Linked DNA regions of Homo sapiens: region 1 is linked to region 2. Evidence: fine-mapped expression QTL. A gene starts in region 2. The other region holds a variant in brackets. All regions are shown on one strand. Distances are from middle to middle.

Evidence for each region.
Region 1: its variant is fine-mapped to the expression of TLNRD1 in cerebellar hemisphere (GTEx, PIP above 0.99).

Annotation. Positions count from the first base shown.
Region 1 is chr15:81,169,965-81,175,336 of GRCh38, reverse strand. No RefSeq gene overlaps it. Among named protein-coding and RNA genes, the nearest start is that of IL16, 24 kb to the left of the region's middle. The variant G/C (reference allele first, on the strand shown) is at 2,448.
Region 2 is chr15:80,997,776-81,003,147 of GRCh38, reverse strand. It overlaps TLNRD1 (talin rod domain containing 1), which reads right to left and starts at 2,225. Exons shown (of 1, transcript NM_022566.3): 1 at 1-2,225. The coding sequence starts at 876. It overlaps LOC128071545, which reads right to left and starts at 1,006. Exons shown (of 1, transcript NM_001414893.1): 1 at 869-1,006. The coding sequence starts at 1,006. The coding sequence ends at 869. RefSeq lists enhancers at 1-434, 5,091-5,372 and silencers at 928-1,057, 1,408-1,867, 1,908-2,597.

The DNA.
Region 1 (5,372 bases), 170 kb before region 2:
GCTGACTGACTGTGGAGGTTCATCTGGATTGTCTGTTGTAGTAAAGGGAAAAAGTAAAGTGACTCCAATACCAGCCCATTACAGGGACCCAAGAAGCAATAGGGGACCCAGAGAGTAACACATGGCACCCAGGAATGAGTTAGGAACCAGAACTAACATGAAAGTCCTGGGTTAATCCCTGGGGCATCATATCTTTGCTCCCCCTTGAGGTGGAGATAAGCAAGTAATAAGTACATCATTTGGAAGATGGTAAGTAAGTTCTGCTCTTCCTACCTTAAGTCAGTTTTGTCTTGCAGAAATTATTGAGTTGTTCTAGCTAGGAAAACCTGGAGGGGGCAGAGGCTTGGCTGGAATGCGGAGTATTCCAGCTCATGCTGCCACAGATTGCTAAGCCAGGGGGGACAAAGGATTGTTGTCTGAATTCCACCTCTCCAAGGGAAACTGAATGTGTTTGGATGGATGTCAACCAGAAAGAGGCCAATGGTCCACCCAAGGCCAGATCTACTCACTGAGGCAGTTTAAAGTACAGAGAGTTAGCACAAAAGGCCAGAGCTCTGTTCTCAAGGAAGGCCCCAGAGTCAAGTTGCAAAGATCAGATCTCAGCCCTATGTCCAAAAGTGGTGACTGCAGAACTAAGAACACAGAGTGGGGGTAGACTGGATGACTTAAAGGCCAGGAGTGAGCTCGAGGGAAAGAAGAACTCCAACAATGAAAACACAGACAAGACCTCACAGAGGGGATGACATTAGGCTTAGCCTCAAAGGTATTTCCAGTCCCCCCAGGATGCCTTCTCAACTCCTTCCAGGTCATCTCACACTTTTCTCTTCCTTTACATCGACCACAGAGCCAAAATAAATCAGTAGTGAGGCTGTCAAGTTCTGGAGGCTCCCCCAGATCAGCCCCACTCTAAGCTTGGAGCTCACTTGGGTTACTGACTCTATGCCTACCCCATCTGCAGTAGACACAACCCCACTGTAGGCTTGGAGCTTATCTGGGCTGCTGGCTCCATGCCTGCAACATCTGCAGTGGACACAGCCCCACTGTTGGCTTAGAACTCACTTGGGTTGCTGTCTCCATGCCTGCACCATCTGCTATGGACACAGTGGACACAGGCCCACTGTAGGCTTGGAGCTCACTTGGGTTGCTGTCTCCATGTCTGCACCATACACAGTGGACCCAGCCCCACTGCAGGCTAGGAATTCCTACTCAGGTTGCTCTCTCTGTGCCTCCACCATTTCTGCTCCAACAGCTCCACTGTTTCTCTAGAGGCATTTTTTCATCTTTCCTCCTCCCTCTGCTGCTCCTTCTTCCTCTGCCCCTGAAACCTTAGCCTGTTCCTGTCCTTGCCCTTTACAAGAATCTCATTTGCAGCTGACACCCATCCTGCACTGTTAAGGAATCAATGGAAAGGCCCACCTAGAGCCCTGTGACTGAGCTCTCCTCCTTGGAGCCTCCTGTTGTCACCTTACTGTTTTCACCAGTGCTACTGCTTTCCATCAGCCATCCTCCTCCCACCCTGGTCCCTGAAAGGCCTGAGCCCAGATGCTTTGCTTCCAGGGTATTGGCCATTCACTCACACAAGTGAAACTTCCCACTCACCTAATAGCCAGAGAAGTTGTTATAGCCCCAAATCACATTGTTAGATGGTCATAGAACATGTTGCCTGTATCTTTCCTCTTTCCCTGAGATCATACTGGTTACAACTGTCACAAAATCAAAGCTCAGGAGGCCAAGGTGGCCAGATTATTTGAGTCCAGGAGTTCAAGACCAGCCTGGGCAACATAGTGAGACCCCCATCTCTGAAAAAAAAATTAATTGGTCATGTTGGCATGCACCAGTAATCCCAGCTACTCTGGAGGCTGAAGTGGGAGGATTACTTGAGCCCAGGAGGTCGAGGCTGTGGTGAGCTGTGATTGTGCCACTGCAATCCAGCCTGGGTGACAGAGCGAGCCCCATCTCCAAAAATAATAAGAAGAAAGAAAGAAAAATCAAAGCTCAGATGCCATCTATGTTGTCCTCATTTCTCTGATGCATTAGATTTCAATTCTGTAACTAAAAAGAACAAACTTCATTTCTTCCCAAGATGCATTCAGTAGTCAGCAAAGAGCAACTGAATGGCTGCTGGGCTTCTGTCCTCAAAACCTCTCTATTGGAGACTGACAGAGGGGACAGAGGCAAGTACATTACAGTGGGGTGATTTGGGGGATAAAGCTTAGCCCTGGGAGATGTGGGAGCACAGAAGAAGGCACAGACCCTGCTGAGTTAGGTCAGATAAATGCTGGATAGACGAATGAATTGACTCTGAACCTCGGGTGAGATGGCCAGCTGGAAAAGGGTGATGGGCATGTTTGAGTCACAGGCACCAGTATGCACCATGGTACAAGGACAGGAAATAGGAGGATGAGTTCAAGGAACCACAGTCTAATATATCAAGAATATTTCTGAGC[G/C]CCTTGTGTTTTCTCTGCTAGCACCATTACTATATTCCACATTACCCAACCCAGATAGCTACAATCTATCCCTGACTCCTTTTTTTTTTCCTTATCTCAACTTTCAGCTCAATTCCTGACAGTTATATTTTCTTTGTTTCTTTTTTTATTATTATTTGAGACAGAGTCTTGTGCTGTTGCTCAGGCTGGAGTGCAGGGGCTCGAGCTCGACTCACTGCAACCTTTGCCTCCTGGGTTCAAGCGATTCTGGTGCCTCAGCCTCAGTAGTAGCTGGGATTACAGGTGCACACCACCATGATTGGTTAATTTTTCTTGTATTTTTAGTAGAGATGTGGTTTTGCCATGTTGGCCAGGCTGGTCTTGAACTCCTGGCCTCAAGCAATCTGCCCACCTCAACTTCCCAAAGTGCTGGGATTAGACGTGAGCCACTGTTCCTGGCCCCTCACAGTTATATATTCTAAACATCTCTCAGACCCACTGACTTCTCTGCCACTTCCTGGCTTAGGCTTTCATACTATTCAGCCAGAATAACCCAAGAGTCTCCTAATTTCTCTACCTTTATCCATTCTTACTCTCTCAAATTCATCCTCTCTCATAACCATAGAAATCTGACCTTTTGGCCAGGCACAGTGGCTCACACCTGCATCCCAACACTTTAAGAGAGGAGACTGGGGTAGGAAGATTGCTTGAGACCAGGAATTCAAGACCAGCCTGGGCAACATAGGGAGACCCTCTCTCAAGAAAGAAGAAGAAGGAAGAGGAAGAGGAGGAGGGGAAGAAGTCTGACCTTTATATTTGCCATTGAACACTCGACTGAGAGACTATATAAACTATCTGAAAAAAATCCCAAACCTTCTGAATAAGGCATGTAAGCCTTTATATAACTAAGCCCTGTCTACTTGCTTCAAATGCCAGGCTCCAGCAAAGCCGAAATTGTGCTAATTGTCTGCTTTCACTGCTGTCTGTCACCTCCATGCTTTTGTGCATCTGTCCCCTCTCTTCCTTTACCTTTCTCACCCTTTGATTGCCAGCTCAGGGATCACCCTTCTAAAATTCTCCTTTGAATGCTCCCCACCACTGATATAATTCATGCCCCTTTCCCACGCTACTAAGATTCTCTGCATATTTCTAATGCTGGGCTTTCTCTGTAATTATTTGTTGACATGTCCATCTTCTCCACTGGGTTGTGAACACATTGAGGCCAAATACTAGCTCTTATTCATCTTTGTGTTCCCTGATCTAACTCAGTGTCTGGCATACAGTGTCAGGCATTGAGTGAAGACTCAAAATTGCCTAAACTAATTAAATAATGGCATTGGTGACTGATACTTCTAGTTACTAAAATAATGAATGCAGGGAAAAAAACTGGAATGATGAGAAAGATGATGAGCTCAGTTTGGACATATGGTTTGGAGCATCTGTGGGCTACAGAGAGTAGAGATGTCTGATGGGCATATGGATGCAGGAACTGGAGGTCAGGAGAGAGATCTGGGATGGGGATAGAAATATGAACATCACTGGTGTATAGAAAGTAGTTGAAGTCAAAGGTTCTGATTTAAAACAATATAGAAAGCACAGTAAGAAAAATGGACTAAGTTCTGATTCAAGCAGCAGAGACAGAAGAAAACAAAAATAACAACAATACCAAAAAAAATGGGCTATGCATGAAGCCTTATAAAATTTCAACATTGAAGAAACAAGCAATGGAAAAGACATCCAACAGAGATGCAACACCAAGACAGGGAAGAGACTGAAGAGAGATAAAATTAAGAAAGTTCCAACACGGAAGCCAAGGGGAAGGGAGGATATATTTTGCATGTTGTTCAGTCTTTGCTGGCTTTGGGACAAAATAAATAAACCCTAAGAACCTTGGGCAAATTCATTTGGCCTTCCCTCTCTCTTGCAGAAAAGACTAGCGTTCAGCGTTCCCTTGAATTAAATAGCTGTAATTTCTAGGGTGCTAAGGAAGAATGTTTTGGGGAAGAGTAGATGGACATAACTGAGAATCTGTTCAGCATTTCCATTGACTTCCCAAACCTCGTGCTAATTTGTACAGCCCATAGTCCATTTCCCATAATTTGAAATCGCTGTGTATTTGAATAGAAATATAATCCACATGTTCATGATTCATTTGCACTTTATGTAACCAAATGTTGGTCTGTAGCTGTTTGATGTCCAAGAGACCATCTGAAAAGTCTTTGCAGCCAGAAGTCATGAGTTGCCAAGAAAATTAAGAGAAAAACCTCAGCCAGCCCTATCTATAATCCAAGGCAGTCGGCAGGAAATGAATAGGTACAGTGTGAAAGACAGAGCATTCAAGCTGCCAATTGTTAGATCAGATCCATGTTCTATGTCTCAAGTTCCAGCCACTTGATGCTAAAGAAGCCATATCAACACACAGGCAATGCCTGGAGATGCACTGTCATTTATTAAACAGATTGGTTACTGTTGGACATTTAGGTCATTTCCAATTTTGTTATTACAAATTAAGCTAAAACAAAAATCTTGGTTGATAAATTTTTGCTCACATCTCTTTATTTATTTACTTTTTCAGACAGGGTCTCACTCTGTCACTCAGGTGGGAGTGCAGTTGTGCTGTCTCCATTCACTGCAACCTCTGCCTCCTGGGCTCAAGCAATCCTCCTGCTTCAGTCTCATGAGTAGCTGGGACTACAGGTGTGTTCCACCACACCCGGCTAATTGACATCTCTTATTATGCACTTCAGAAAAATTGCACTAAATTGTTTTCCTACAGGCAGTGAATGAACTTGTCTTTCTCAGGATACCTTTCCAAGCATGGAGCATCATCAATGAAATAATCCAATGGAATAACATAAAGTTATTACAAATCATGTTTCCAAAGACTATTTTACATAGTATGGGAAACTATTAATAACATAAATATAATTGCATTATTAAATATAG
Region 2 (5,372 bases):
GGCGCCGCCCAGGATGGCGGTCTGCACCGCCTTGCCCTCGGCGCTCACAGCTGCCGCGCGACCCAGGAACTGCGGCTCGGTGGCGAAGCCTACCAGGGCGCTCACTGCCTGCACCAGGGGCCCGCTGAAGAGCGCACAGCGGCTGCGCGCCAGCTCACTGGGCGCCACCTTCACCTCGCGCACGCAGGCCAGCAGCGCCGACGCGCTGGTGCTCATGCACTTGACGCCCAGCTTGAACTGCTCCCGCGAAAAGCGGTCCCGTGACTTGTCACTGGCCAGGGCGCACGCGTCCGTCAGGAACTTGAGGTTGCGCGACAGGCCCTGCGACACCTCCAGCAGCAGCTGCGGCGTCATGTCGGCCAGCGGCGTGGCGCGCAGCACGGCGCAACCCTGCTCCACCTCGTGGCGGCATCGCGTCACGCGGTAGCGGTCCACCAGGCCCGGCTGCGCGGGCTGGGCGCCCGGCGTGGCCACAGCGGCCAGATAGGCCGCGTGGGCCGAGCACTCGGTCAGCGACACCACCAGGTCGCCCAGCTCCACCAGGCTGTCCCCCGCCTCCCCGAAGCGGCCCATGTTGAGCTGGCTCTGCACGTCGTGGGTGAGGATGGAGAGCCCCTTGGTGCGCGCGATGATGGTGTCCCGGCACTGCTCGAAGGACTCGGCGCCGGCACCAGAGGAGGCGGGGCCCTCGAAGAGCACGGGCCGCGCCTCGCTCGACAGCAGCAGCAGGTCAGCCACCAGCTGCATCTTGCCCTTGCAGTGGTCGCAGACGGATACCAGCCTCTTCCGCGGCTGCGAGCTGGCCCCGCCGATGGCGCTCGCAGGAGCCGGAGAAGCCGCCTCGCCAGTGGGCTTCCCGGCGCTGCCGCTAGCCATCGCGCCCGGGGGGCACTGGCATGCCGCTGGGGAGCCCGCTACCACCGCCGCTGCCGCGGCCACTGCCGCCGCCCCGGCGGCCGTCGCGACTCAGCTGGCCAAGGCCGCGGTGCCTTCCCCGCACCATCATGCCATCCACCGCCGCGGGCAGAGGGCACTGGGCTGCGGCGGCGGGAGCCCGGGCGGCGCGGGGTGGGCCCGAGGGCGAGAGAACGCGGAAGGCTCTTCGGGGCAAGGGGAGGGGCTGCAGCTTTCGGCCTCCTAGAGGGCTTGCAGGAACCATGAACCGGGGCAGAGCAAACTCACTGTCCGCGCTCCTCGTCGCCGGGCTGCCAGGAAAGTCCCTTCTGCTGGTTCGCCGCCGCCGCCGCCTTCTTGGGCATGGCCTGGCGCGGCCCTCGGAGCGGGGAGGGCGGGACGGGGAAGCTGGGAGTTGTCCTTCCTTCCTTCCTTTCTTTGAAATCAAAATCCTTTCCTCGGGGAGGAGCGCGGGAGGCAGCTCAGGCGGGCTGTGCTGTCAGCCGCCGCGCTCGAGGCCACCTCGGGCTCGGCGGCGCACGTGGGCTTCAGGCGCCGTGACCCCACCAGGCGGCACTTCCCCGCGACGGCGGCCGGGGCTGGCTCTCTGGGACGCGCGGCCGCCCCGGGCGCATCTCCTGCCTCCAGCTCTTGGGAAGCGGCGCCGGCGGCAGCGGGGCAGAGGGTGTGGCCGGCACTGTCGCGGCCGCGCCGAGTCAGAGTCGGGCGGGAGCCTGCACTGATTGCGCACAGCGGCCGCCCGGATCGCGCTCAAGCTCTCGCCCGCCCGCCACACGCCCGGGCGTGCCGAGCACCACGGCGGCCCCTTCCCGCCTCGCCGGTTCACAGAGCGCGGCCCGGCGCCGCGGCGGCACGCCCTCCCAGACCGCGCGCCCGGCGGCCCGGCGCTGGCTGTCTACGCAAGTCCATCCCTGTCGCCTCGTCTGGGGCCCGCAGCAGCTGAGCTCTCCCGAGGCCCCGGGCCCCGCGCATCGGACGCCCCTGCACGAGTCTCCCTGCCACCGGGCCAACTCAGAAGGTCCCCGCGGCGCTGCGGCAACCGGCCCGGGCCCCGGCTCCTGCCATTTTTGTCAACCGCCAACTTCCGAGCGAGCGGGCAGAAACTGAAAGGAAGGGCGGGGGCCGAAAGGCAGAGGGGAAAACACCCGCTTCCTCTCCGCGCGCGGCTTCACCTCGGAGCGCGGCCGTGGCTGCGCCGCCGCCCGCAGGGGCTGCCGGAGGCTTTTCCTGTTCCCGTCCGCGCCTCGCCCCCGGGCTCGCCGCCGCCGCCGCCTCGGCCGTAACCTCCCTGGAGCCTATAGAAATCTTTTGTGTGGCGTCACCGCCTTTCGTTTAAATCCCGCTTCCTCCTCTCGCCCTTCCTCCCGCCCCCTCCGCCGCTCCCGGATGCTTGCGCGATGCGCTGCTCCTCCCCCGGGAAGCTGGGTGGCTGCGGGGGACGCCGCCGCCCAACGCGGACGCTGCCGGCGTGGGGCCGGTGGTCCTGAACTCCCCCGTGGTCCTGGGCCGAGAGACTGGGGGAGCGGACAGGGGAAGGCCTGCTCCGGCCCGGGGGCTCTGCGCACACCCATGGGAGACCGGGGCGCAGCCGCCCGCGGGCCTTACGTAAGCTCTTAGCCGGACCAGGGGGCTCCACGCTTCCTCCCCGCCAAGAGAGCAAGTCTAAAAGGTGACCTGGCTTCTGGGCTGAAGGGAGGAGGACACTGGATTTCGGCCCCTGGTGATTTGCTGGGGCCGGTGGGTCGTCTCGGTCTGCGCGACTTCGCCCGGTTTTCCAACGCCCCCTGCCCTTTGTTGTGTTTGATCCACTTCCACGATGGGTTTCCGACCAGCAGTGCAGTGTAACGAAAAGAGGAAAAGAGCACTGGATGGGGAGTCCGAAGAGTGGTGCTAGATGCCTGCCCGTTCCTCCCTTGAAATACGCCTTATGCAGTGAGAGCGCGGGTTCTGAAGCAGATTTCCTAGGATCAGCCTTTCTCAAGCCATTTATGAGTTCCATGACATTGTTCAAGTTCTCTTTCCAAGTATCCGTCTTCTCTTCTAGAAATTAGAGATTGTGCACAGGCTGCTTGAGTACTTGGTTCCTAAACAGTAGCTGTTAGAATTATTATGAGCCCTGATCAGCGCACTTTGCCCTCTCATAACGTCTATTTATTCGTCTGTATAATGGAATAATAGTGGCTGCTGTTAAATGAATTAAATACGACGGCGTTTGGAGGGAAACATTACTACTCCAGTTTTACAGATAAGGAAACTGATGATCAGGTGCTTGAAGTGACTTCCGAAGATCAGGAAGACAGCATATGGCAGGGACAGGAACCCACGCCTACGCCCCAGCCTCTTTTTACCGAACCTTGTTCTTCAGGAAGTGGTTAAAACACCTGGGCTACTCCCAGCAAAACGCCAGTCACGCAGTCCTGAAACAGGTCCTCTAAGGTGCCCAGCCCAACACAGGCTGGGCGTGCTGAGCCAACAGAATGTTTGTTCCTCTGTCCCTTCCTAGAACCCCAAGTCACCTTTCTCCAGCCAGTTAAAAACGTTACTTTTAACTAGGATGACGTTTCAATTTATCGGCCATATCCAAGCATTTCTGAGAATGAACTGTGAGACATGCTATTAATAAATTAACCATGAACAGCAGGTTCAAACCTGGATGGATAGTCATCCTACTTATAACTGAAAGTATCCTTAAATATCTTTAGAATCCGGATGAGCCCACTTAGTTTGCAAACCGAGGTCAATAAAACTGACTTGAAATAGGAAGTAATTATGTAGGGTTAATTCCTTTTTTTCTTCTACAAGAGAAAAAAAAAACAGCTGGATAAGTCAAGGTTTTTCCATGGTGACCCAGGGATTGCACCTTAGTCCTTCTTAAGCTCCAAAAACTTATGAGAGGGGGCCGAAAGCGATGGCTCACACCTGTAATCCCAGCACTTTGGGAGGCCAAGGCAGGCGCATCACGAGGTCAGGAGATCAAGACCATCCTGGCTAACACAGTGAAACCCCGTCTCTACTAAAAATGCAAAAAATTAGCCGGGCATGGTGGCGGGCGCCTGTAGTCCCAGCTACTCGGGAGGCTGAGGCAGGAGAATGGCATGAACCCGGGAGGCGGAGCTTGCAGTGAGCGGAGATCGCGCCACTGCACTGCAGCCTGGGCGACAGAGGGAGACTCCGTCTCAAAAAAAAATAAATAAATAAATAAATAAAACTTATGAGAGGGAAGTCAGACTGTTCTGTGCCTAGTTTATTCTTGAGGCTGCTCTAAGATCAGATTTTTTTTCCAAAGCCACGTAGTGCCCCTGGGGGTCCCATTTTCCCTTTCTTCTACATATGCAGTCTGTTTTGTTGTTGATGGAAACCCACCCCGACAATGAGTTGTGTTACACACAGACTGTCCACTCTATTCAGTGAGGTTTGGTTTCATTTTTAAAACTGATAGCATTGTTTTCTCGGCCTTCCCTGCTTCATTTTTCAGATAGGGAAGCTCCTAAACTGATCCTCCCAGGCACTGCCTCCACCTTTCTTTAGGTTCACCTTTACTTTGTCCGATTGTTCAATCACTCCACAATCACTGGGCACCAGTCTTGTGCTAGGCACCAAAGTTACATAATTTGTAATATGAGGCCCCCACTCTTTAGAGTCCAGGGATAGGAGTAGATTCACAAGAAACAGCCACAATTTCACTATTGGCACAGTGAGAGCACAGAGTAAAAAACCTATAGCAGAGATAATCAGGCTTCACAGATACAATATTTGTAGGTAGGCAGGGCCATGTGGTTCTGTCTGACCAATGAAATGTAAGGGGAAGCTATGCAGGTTACTTCTAGGCTGAGACAATGAAAAGCCAATCTGTAATTCTCCACTCTCTTGCCCTCCTATAACTACCACGGAGACTGCATTCTAGTTGGTGGAGCCTCTGTAAGCTTAGGTGACCATGTGGAGCAGACCCTCTTGATCTGTAGTGGACATGCAATGTGAACACAAAGTAAATTATTGGTGTGTTAAGTCACAGAGATTTGAGGGTTGTCTGTTGCTGTTGCATATTTTTAGTCTAATTAGAGGATGGCTTGTTGGTGTCTGCCCTTAGAGTCACTCAAGCAATGGCTTTTTCTTTAGAAAACTCCACCTATTACCCCTTCTAACCCTCTCAAAATTAAAATAAATATAAATCAAAAGTATTTGCTGTGATCTGACCCCCAAATTCATATGTTAAAACTTAATCACCAGTGTCACAGTATTACAAGGTGAGCCTTTGGGAGATGGTTAAGTCATGAGGTGGAGCCCTCTTGAATGGGGTTAGTGGCCTTATAAAAGAGGTGTGAGAGAGTTGTTCACCTCTTTTGCCCTTTCATCATGGGAGGATGCAGCAACATAGAGGACGCATCATCTATGAGGAATGGGCCCCTGCTGGGGCCTTGATCTTCTACTTCCCAGCTCTAGAGCTGTGAGCAATAAAT